Linked DNA regions of Homo sapiens: region 1 is linked to region 2. Evidence: fine-mapped expression QTL. A gene starts in region 2. The other region holds a variant in brackets. All regions are shown on one strand. Distances are from middle to middle. Region 1 overlaps LOC105374031 (a long non-coding RNA gene). Region 2 holds the start of HHLA2 (HHLA2 member of B7 family).

Evidence for each region. PIP is the estimated chance that this variant, and not a neighbour inherited with it, causes the effect. A credible set is the group of variants that fine-mapping cannot tell apart.
Region 1: its variant is the best candidate, but not a certain one, in a credible set for the expression of HHLA2 in whole blood (TOPMed, PIP 0.73).

Annotation. Positions count from the first base shown.
Region 1 is chr3:108,108,597-108,112,998 of GRCh38, reverse strand. It overlaps LOC105374031 (a long non-coding RNA gene), which reads right to left. Exons shown (of 8, transcript XR_007095997.1): 3 at 2,376-2,557; 4 at 1,677-2,064. Among named protein-coding and RNA genes, the nearest start is that of LINC01215, 14 kb to the left of the region's middle. The variant C/G (reference allele first, on the strand shown) is at 2,362.
Region 2 is chr3:108,294,567-108,298,968 of GRCh38, reverse strand. It overlaps HHLA2 (HHLA2 member of B7 family), which reads right to left and starts at 2,421. Exons shown (of 10, transcript NM_001282556.2): 1 at 2,370-2,421.

The sequences.
Region 1 (4,402 bases), 190 kb after region 2:
GTCATTCATTCAGTATTAATCATGTGTCCAACACTGTACTAAAAAAAAGCACCCTATTAAAAATTAATGAACATGTTAATGTCAATTTAGACCAAAAGGAAAATTTCGAAGATCTGTCTAAAGGCGTGGCCTAGGACAAAAAGCATCAGAATCAAATGTGGTGCTAGTTAAAAATGCACATTCCTGGAATCACATCCCAGACTTATTAAATCAAAATTTCTGGAAATGGGACTTGGGGATCTGCACATTTAGCAAATGTCCTGGGTTATTATTTTGCACACTAAAATTTTAGAACCACTACTAAAAGTGATTCTTTGTCTTCTATTCTGAAATTGTAAACGTTTTAATCAGTGAATTGGGTGAATTTCAATAAAAACTTTGCCTATCAAGCTTGTAGATCGCTGAAAGTTGGAGGTAAAGCTGATAGACAATATTAAAGAATCAAATTTGAAAAAGACCTTGGAAAAGGAGAAGGATGGAATGAAATTAACAATATACAATTTAATAGGGTTAAATGTTAAATTCTGCATCTAAGTTCAAAGAATCAACTACTTAAATACAAGGTAGAAAGCTTTGAATTGACAGCAGTTCACTTGAAAAAGATTTAAAGTTCAATGAGAGTCAAAAATGTGATATTATTTCCAAAAAAGACTGATACAAATTTTAGGATGCATTAATAAAAACCAAAACTAGAGAAGGGAGGGGCAAGGTTGTACCCATCATGTTCTGCAATGGCAGAGCATATCTATTTTTAAATATTTAAATATATACATATTTTTTAAAAAGACATTATCAAACTAGAGTGTGTCCAAGGGAAAGTGACTAGGTAGTAAAGTGCCTTAAACCCACATCATATGAAGAATTAATGAAAGAACAGACTATGTTTCACATAGAAAAGTGAAAACTTTCTTTAATAGCCAACCTTATAGGGTTGAAAGGCTATTGTGTTGGGGGAAGAAATAGACATTTTCTATATGGTTCTGCAAGAAAGAACTGAGGACATTAGGGCAAAGTTAAGGGAAAGTTATTTTTGGTTTAATGTATGAAAGAATTACCTAAGAATTAGCAAGTTCAATATATGAAATAGGCTGTTGCCCTTATGAGATAGTAAGTTCCAGAAGTATGTTAAAATCTCTATCAGAGATTGTGAAAAGGATTCCAATCAATCAACCAATCAACGGAGGTGCTAGGGCTTAAATGTTTTCGCCCCCTCAATGCAACAGTATTGACAGGTGTAGCCTTTAAGAGGTAGTTAAGTCACCAGGGCTTCATCCTAAAAAATGGTATTAGCATTAGGCCCTTTAGACCTCAAGGCTGGAGGAAGCACCCTTTTGCCCTCCCATCCCTTCCACCACGTGAGGACACTGCATTACCCCCCTCCAGAGGATAAAGCAACAGGCACCGTCTTGGAAACAGAGTCCAGGTTCTTACCAGACACCAAACCTGCTGGCATCTGTATCCTGGACTCCCAGCCTCCAGAACTGAGAGAAATAAAATTCTGTCTTTATAAATTACCTAGCCACTGATATTTTGTTACAGTAGCACTAAAGGACTAAAGAGGTGATGAACCAGTAGTAACGGTGGAATAGGAACTAAGAAGTATGTTTAACTGAAACCATTGTAGCTGAAATACAAAACTTAAAAAAAAGGAAAGGAAAATAAATAAGAAAGGATACCTGCAATATATAGGACATCTATCCAAACAGAGATTCATTCCATTCTTTAAATTTCTGTGTAACTAGTTATAATTTGGGGTCCATTGCAAAGCCTTCAAAGCCTTATCTGGTTATACCATTTGTTTATCCTTCCAAAGGAATCAGTTGCTGACATCTGTTAGTGGGGCTATTTTGAAGAAGGCAAGAGTCAGAATGCCCATGACACACTTCCATGGTCTTCTGCAGAGGAAACTTGACCACGGTGAATCCTTAAGTTGACATATCTCAATTCTTAGCCTGTGTTACCCTGCTACAGAACAACAGCCAGGCTTGCCAAAAGTGGGAAGTGAACTCAAAGTCAAATAACATGTAGACTGGCCGGTGCGATATGGACAGCATGGCACAAAATCTGTGTCAAAACAGGGATGCTGGTGATTAATTGAAGGAATGATATGCCCTCTTCGGGTGATTTTTTTTTTTTTTACATTTAATGCACAAATTAGTTTGAGCATTTGGAAGATGGAGCAGGAGCAGAAGATACCCAGAGAGAAAGTCAACTGTAGATGTTGTGAAAAGCCATTGGGTATATTGAAATTAGAAGTGGGCAAAAGTATAAGGAAGCTGTAACGAAAAGATAAATAAAGGGCAGGAATAGTTGAGTTGGTTGGTGGGAATAAGGACTGTTGAAGCAGATTATATGTATACC[C/G]TTGCCAGAGTTACCTAACAGCACTCTACTGCTGAGGTGATGTCAAGATAATTCAGTTGCTAGGGGTCATCTTGGATGTTTGGGGGAATTCTGTTCTTTGAGTAGCATTCCAGTCTCCAGTGTCAACTCTTGTGCAGTTCTTGTTCTTGTCCTTATTTCTATGTGAATCTTATACAACACTTTTCTGACTTTTCTGCTAAATGAAAGAAAAGAAAAGAAGGTGCTAGTACTACTAGCAGTCTGGGGCATAGCCCAAGAGGCTTATCACGAGCTTAGCATTTCTTTGCCATCTCATGTTGTTTTCATCTTCAAAATTCCATCTACATTTTCCTCCTTGAGAGATTGGTATTATTTTTTATTAAAAATGTTGTATTCATTTAAAATGGATAATTTAGAGAGACATGGCATATTTTTTGTTTCAGTTACTTCTCATAATTTTTGGCTAATGCCATGTAATCCCTTGAGATATGGCTACCTCGGTTTGAGACATATGATCTTACAATAAACTTATATTACTTTAGGTTATCTGGGTGACTGTTCCCTGAAGATCCTAACTAATGCAGTGGTTTTAGGGAGATATAAGTGTGTGTCTGTGTGTGTGTGTGTCCCATTCCAGAATGTTATCTGAATTACAAAAGTCAGAAAACAGGATTTTACATGTTTTTTAAAGTACTTGATAATTTATGATAAAATTAAACACATGCTACTGAACAATGCAGCATGTGAATGATGGAGTTTAATGTTCAAACCCAAATCTGCTCATTCGTAGAAATTTTATATCTTCTTGTGTATAAAAATAAATGATATTTTGTTTTTCTTAAGTCAGTGTCACTTTATTGTAGGCCTGAAGGAAGTCCATCTTCTTTCACATAAAACCCACTCAAGAATAGGAAAACAGAGAGAGAAAGCAGCAGGCATGAGCAATACAAAGAGAACCAAGGCTAAGACTTAGAATTCAAACTTGGTCAAGGTGTAGACTTCCATGTGGAGAAATTGTTTCCATTAGATTCTATTTAAAAATTAATAATGTTAAGAATTAAGCGTTCTTATATGCTGAAGTGTAATTGGTAGTTATTAAATGTTATTTATTAAAATCCTAATAAGAATTAGACTTTAAATTAAATACTGACTCCCACTCAATTAATTTAAATAATTAAGCCTAATGTTACTGGTGAGGGATGACAGGGAGGAGGGAGAGTCCATTGTGAAACCCATTTTTAATAAAAAGTTGTATATGTAAATAATGTGTTAAAAGATTATCATTTTCCAAGCCACTTTTTTTGTCCATTGCTAACATCTACTTTCTTTAGAAACTGGCTTATACTTTCCAGGCATTATTACAATCCATGAAATTTACAGAGAACCCGCTAATGACTATGCACACCAGTTCACTTCAAAAGTCTTTATTGGACCAGACACAGCGATGGAGCCCACAGCCTTGAGAGAGAAAGGGACTTGTAAACACACAGTTACAGTGCAGCACGATACGTGCAAGATGGGAAATATGTACTGGGCATCAAGTCGGGAGGCTTAGAAGAGTCTTCACAGATGTGGTGATCACTGGGTAGGATTTTGACAGATTACTAGGTAGGACTTTGACAGTTAAATATCAGAGAGGAGGATTGCAAGCAGAAGTACTCTGAGGTGCAGAGATGTGAACCGGCATGCTGTTTGAGAGACAGCTTTACTTCGGTAGGACTGGGAGAGGTTAGAGGAAATGAATTGTAGCCTCAGTGAGAAAAGAAATGGGATCAGGCTAGATTCACCTTCTCTTCTCTCTCTGTGACCTGAGGCAAATTATCTGGTCTCTACAAGCTTCCATTTCCTTATTTATAAAGTTTCTTCCTAGAGCTATGTTGTTTATGATTATGGACAAAGACCTGGCCCCTAGCACTCACTGAAGTCTAGCAGCATGGTGTTGGTGGAGTTTGACATGGTTAAGTACACGAAATGGGGACACCAGGCCTATTGTCTCATAGGACCACCTCAAATTCACCACCCTGCAAACATCTGTGAACCAGTGGTATAGTAAAGATAGCAG
Region 2 (4,402 bases):
GACCTGGATAGCCATGGAGAAGACATCCCACCTGAAACAGAAGTATTAAAGCAAGGAAGCTGCAAGTGTACATTTGCCTATCTCAGGTTTGTATCTTAATCTCTTATCACTTGGGAATTAGTGGTTTGAACTCTAAATGGTAAGCAGCAATGTGCAATGACAGACTCTAAGATTCCAAGATCGAGGACTAAGGAAAAACAAGCCCCCATTCGTTACTCAATTTTAAAATGAGCCTCTGAGGGGACATTTAACAGTATTTACAGAGAGAAAAAATCTGAATCTGCAGTTATTATAACAAGCTGCACCTGCTAACTGCATTCTAGTCTCCAACAGAAAAAGATGCAATACAGTACATTATCTCTGAGACCTGCTGGAAATGAATATCCAGAGAAAAGCAAGCTTCTAAGGGTGAAGCCTATGCTGAAGAAAGAGAAATATGCATTTTACTGAAGATGGTGCAGTAAAAGGGGCCTGCAAATATATACTGGAAACTTTAGTTGGGGCTAAATTAGAAGGATTTTGAACATATAAACACTACAACTGAATACCAAGGAAAGGTGTGTACATGTTATAAAGATAGTATTGTGTTAGAAAGGAGAACCTAAAGTTATAATAAGCCAGAATAGCAGGATTTTTCTGGTGGCATATGTTTATAGCCCCAGTTAAACGGAATGGACTTGGATCCTCATTTTCTTTTCTAGGAGAGTCAGGTCAGAGTCCTAGATAGGGAATACCTAATAGCTAGTCTCATCTGACAGAAGAATAAGGAGGAAGGAATTTCTCTTGAATAGGCAATTGGTCTTCCCAGAAATTAAGTCAGGAAGCAACTGGCTCTTGGATAGCCCCTGGGTCGCTGCTATGCAGATACTTGGAAAAGGGGTATTCATTCCTACTAGGCAGGGGAAAAGTTTGCATGCCTGCAGTCAGAAGTCAGTTAGACAGACATTCAAAGCCTCAAAGAGAATGCTGGTTATGTAACTCAGAACAAACTCTCCACTCCTAGGCAAGTCTCTGGGAATTTAGAGTTGACATGACAACCTCAGGAGGAAAAACACCTTGTTTAATGCTGTACTACGTGACCTACACCGGTCACTGACCAGAGCAAGGAGAAGCCACCCAGAATCACTGGTTAATGATCAAAATATTAAGCTATGGTCTATTTTAAGCACCTGGAGGAAAACTCAACACAGGAATTGGTTTCTTTCCCAGCTCAGGCCAACTGATAGAACATGCTGGTGGGCCACACGCCAAAAGTAGGCAGAGCCTTCATTCATGGATTTATTTAAGAGCCACCAAACTTTCAGGCTACTCAATATGATTATATAGGAAATCATTTGTCTTTTACATCTATATTCTGAAATAATAATATTTATTAAACACTTTCTACATACCAGGCACTTTGCTAAGCACTTTAATAAATTTCATTTAATCTTCACAGCAATACTAGTCTACCCCCATTTTACAGATTAGGAAACTGGCTCTGAGAAAAATATACAACTGGTTAATGATGAAGCAGGTAAATGCACCAAGGATTACTTGACTCTAGAGACTATGATCTTGACCACTACACTTTATTGCATCTTTTGATTAAAATATGCTTATAATGGGATATGACACCAATTTGCCATTCTGGACAGAAATTATTTCCTCCAAGTTTCTAGGAAATGGGAAGCTCAAGTTTGTTTTGTCAGGTACCAGTAACACAAAAAAACCTAAATTACCTGTTCATATTTTTTTCTATTATCCAAAGTCCCAAACAATAGAAACCCAATGAGAATTGAATCTTAACTTTTTGAATCTTGTTTTAGTTATTAAAAAATGACATAAACTTAATGATTCTTCCCTGAGACAGTGGAAATATCTAGGAGACTTCTAAGTTTCTTGTATTAGAATTCAAAGATCACGATTCTTCTGCTAGATAACCACTACTACGGTCCTTTTGTTTCCACCACAGAATGGAACGCAGTGCATCTTGGAGCAGCTAATAAAACTCTGTAGTGTAACTAGATGAACAATTACAAGTAAGAATACACTCTTAGAGATTTTTTTAAAGTTCGCAGATAATTTTCAAAACAAACATTGCTCATCCCTCTTTCACTGTCTTACCAGAATGTTAGGTATTTTCCTCATTTTTGCTAAGTTCTTTTATTTGAAATATATCAGCATGTTCCTTCAAGACAACCTTTTACTAAGTATTTGTTTGGTGCATATGCACAATACATAGTATATGCACTAAATCAATTTAAAAGATCAGTCACTAATTTTTTCCTAACGGGAAAATAAAGTGTCAACTAAAAACCACCCATATTTGATTTATTCATGCCCACTTTTAAGTTCTAGGTATAAACAACTTAGAAAGAAATCCTTACCTTACTTAGAAATTCATACCGTCTAGTCAAATGCTAAGTAGTCCATAAGAATAAACATTGAATTCAGCTATGAGTTTCTCAGAGAGTAAAGTCCAAGGTACGTTTGATTTGCTACCTATGACAGACCAAGGAAATCACATCATCACCAAGGACTCCCTCCTTCAAACTAAGCCCCACCCAGATCTGAGTCAGTACAGATCTGAAAAGTCCAGGAATTAGAAGATGCAGTTTCAGACAACATATTGAAACAGCTAAGCATTGAGCTGTGGGAGCAGTGGACTCTGGTTTCCATGCTATGGTGTCAGCTTCACCATCAACATGATACAGGCAACCTCCTGAGGTTGGACTGCCTGTGACCTGTCTAGCTTGCTGCAGAGTTGTAAAGAAAATTGTGTAGCTGGTTGCAGTGGGTGCCAATAGTTCTGTGAGAAAGAACCATAACCCTACACAAAGTTCATCTGCACCTACAATTCCCATTACAGTTCTGGTCGCTAGAACACCCAAGCTTAAACTCAACTTCAGAGAAATAAAGACCTCTCTGAATTCCACATGGAAAGTTGGGCAGTGCCCAGCCTCTATGCTGTCATATCATTTAATCTCTCTCTCCCTCAGTGTCACATGCATGGCATGCATGCACATACAACAGATGCTAAGAGTCATGCTTTACTCACTATTGTATCCCAAACAACTACCACTTACTTACTAGCACATAGTAGCTGGTCAATATCTGTTTGCTGAGTGCATGGGAGCAAAAGTTACAAAGTGAACAAAAATTACCTTAGGAGGACAATAAACAGGACCCTTCTGTCTGGAACAAAGGATGCCATCCAAGCCTTGGCACAGCACACAAATCCCCTGATCATATAATCATAGGGCCCTGTCTAGCTTTATAGCCTTTCGGCATTACTCACCACATCAACGTTAACCTCCTGCCACACATGCACACTCAGGGGAGAGGGCAAAGTACATTTGGGGAACTCCCCCTCCTCTTCCCCATCTCTTCCTTGACTTCCTTCTTCTCTAGTCAGAGTCATCCATAGTGAGCCTTCTGCTGCCCACTGGAAACTGGGTTGAAAGCGCCAGGGCTCTTCCTAGAATCCCCAAAGTCACCCACGCCAACGTTTTCTTTTTTGTTTGTTTTTGTTTTTCGTTTTTTTTTTTTTTTTTTTTTTTGAGACAGAGTCTCTTTCTGTCGCCCAGGCTGGAGTGCAGTGGCACGATCTCGGCTAACTGCAAGCTCTGTCTCCCAGGTTCACGCCATTCTCCTGCCTCAGCCTCCCGAGTAGCTGGGACTTTCAACCCAGTTTCCAGTGGGCAGCAGAAGGCTCACTATGGATGACTCTGACTAGAGAAGAAGGAAGTCAAGGAAGAGATGGGGAAGAGGAGGGGGAGTTCCCCAAATGTACCTTGCCCTCTCCCCTGAGTGTGCATGTGTGGCAGGAGGTTAAAGTTGATGTGGTCAGTAATGTCCAAAGGCTATAAAGCTAGACAGGGCCCTATGATTATATGATCAGGGGATTTGTGTGCTGTGCCAAAGGCGCCCGCCACCACGCCTGGCTAATTTTTTTGTATTTTTAGTAGAGATAGGGTTTTGCTGGGGTTCCTGGTTTAGCCAGGATGGTCTCAATCTCCTAACCTCGTGATCCGCCCGCCTCGGCCTCCCAAAGTGCTGGGATTACAGGTGTGAGCCACCGCGCCCGGCCGCCAACTTTTATCATTAATAAGATCTATTATGAAATGAAATCAAAATCAAACTGGGACTTAAAAGATGCAGGCAATCCCTGCTTTCACCTCTGAATCTCCATGGCCATGTAGTTAATGGTACATCACACCACTGTAATATTAGTTTAGGGAAATAGCAGAGCTCCTAAAGCATACACATGAGGAGAGCAGACTCTCACGGAATTTGAAAATAGAAGAATTACATATTTTTTGAAGATTTTTGAAGTTTTAGGAAGAAATGCCGTATGCATACAAACATACCTGTTATGCAGAGATTGTTCAAGCTGAAGGTAAAAATAGAATCACGGTTT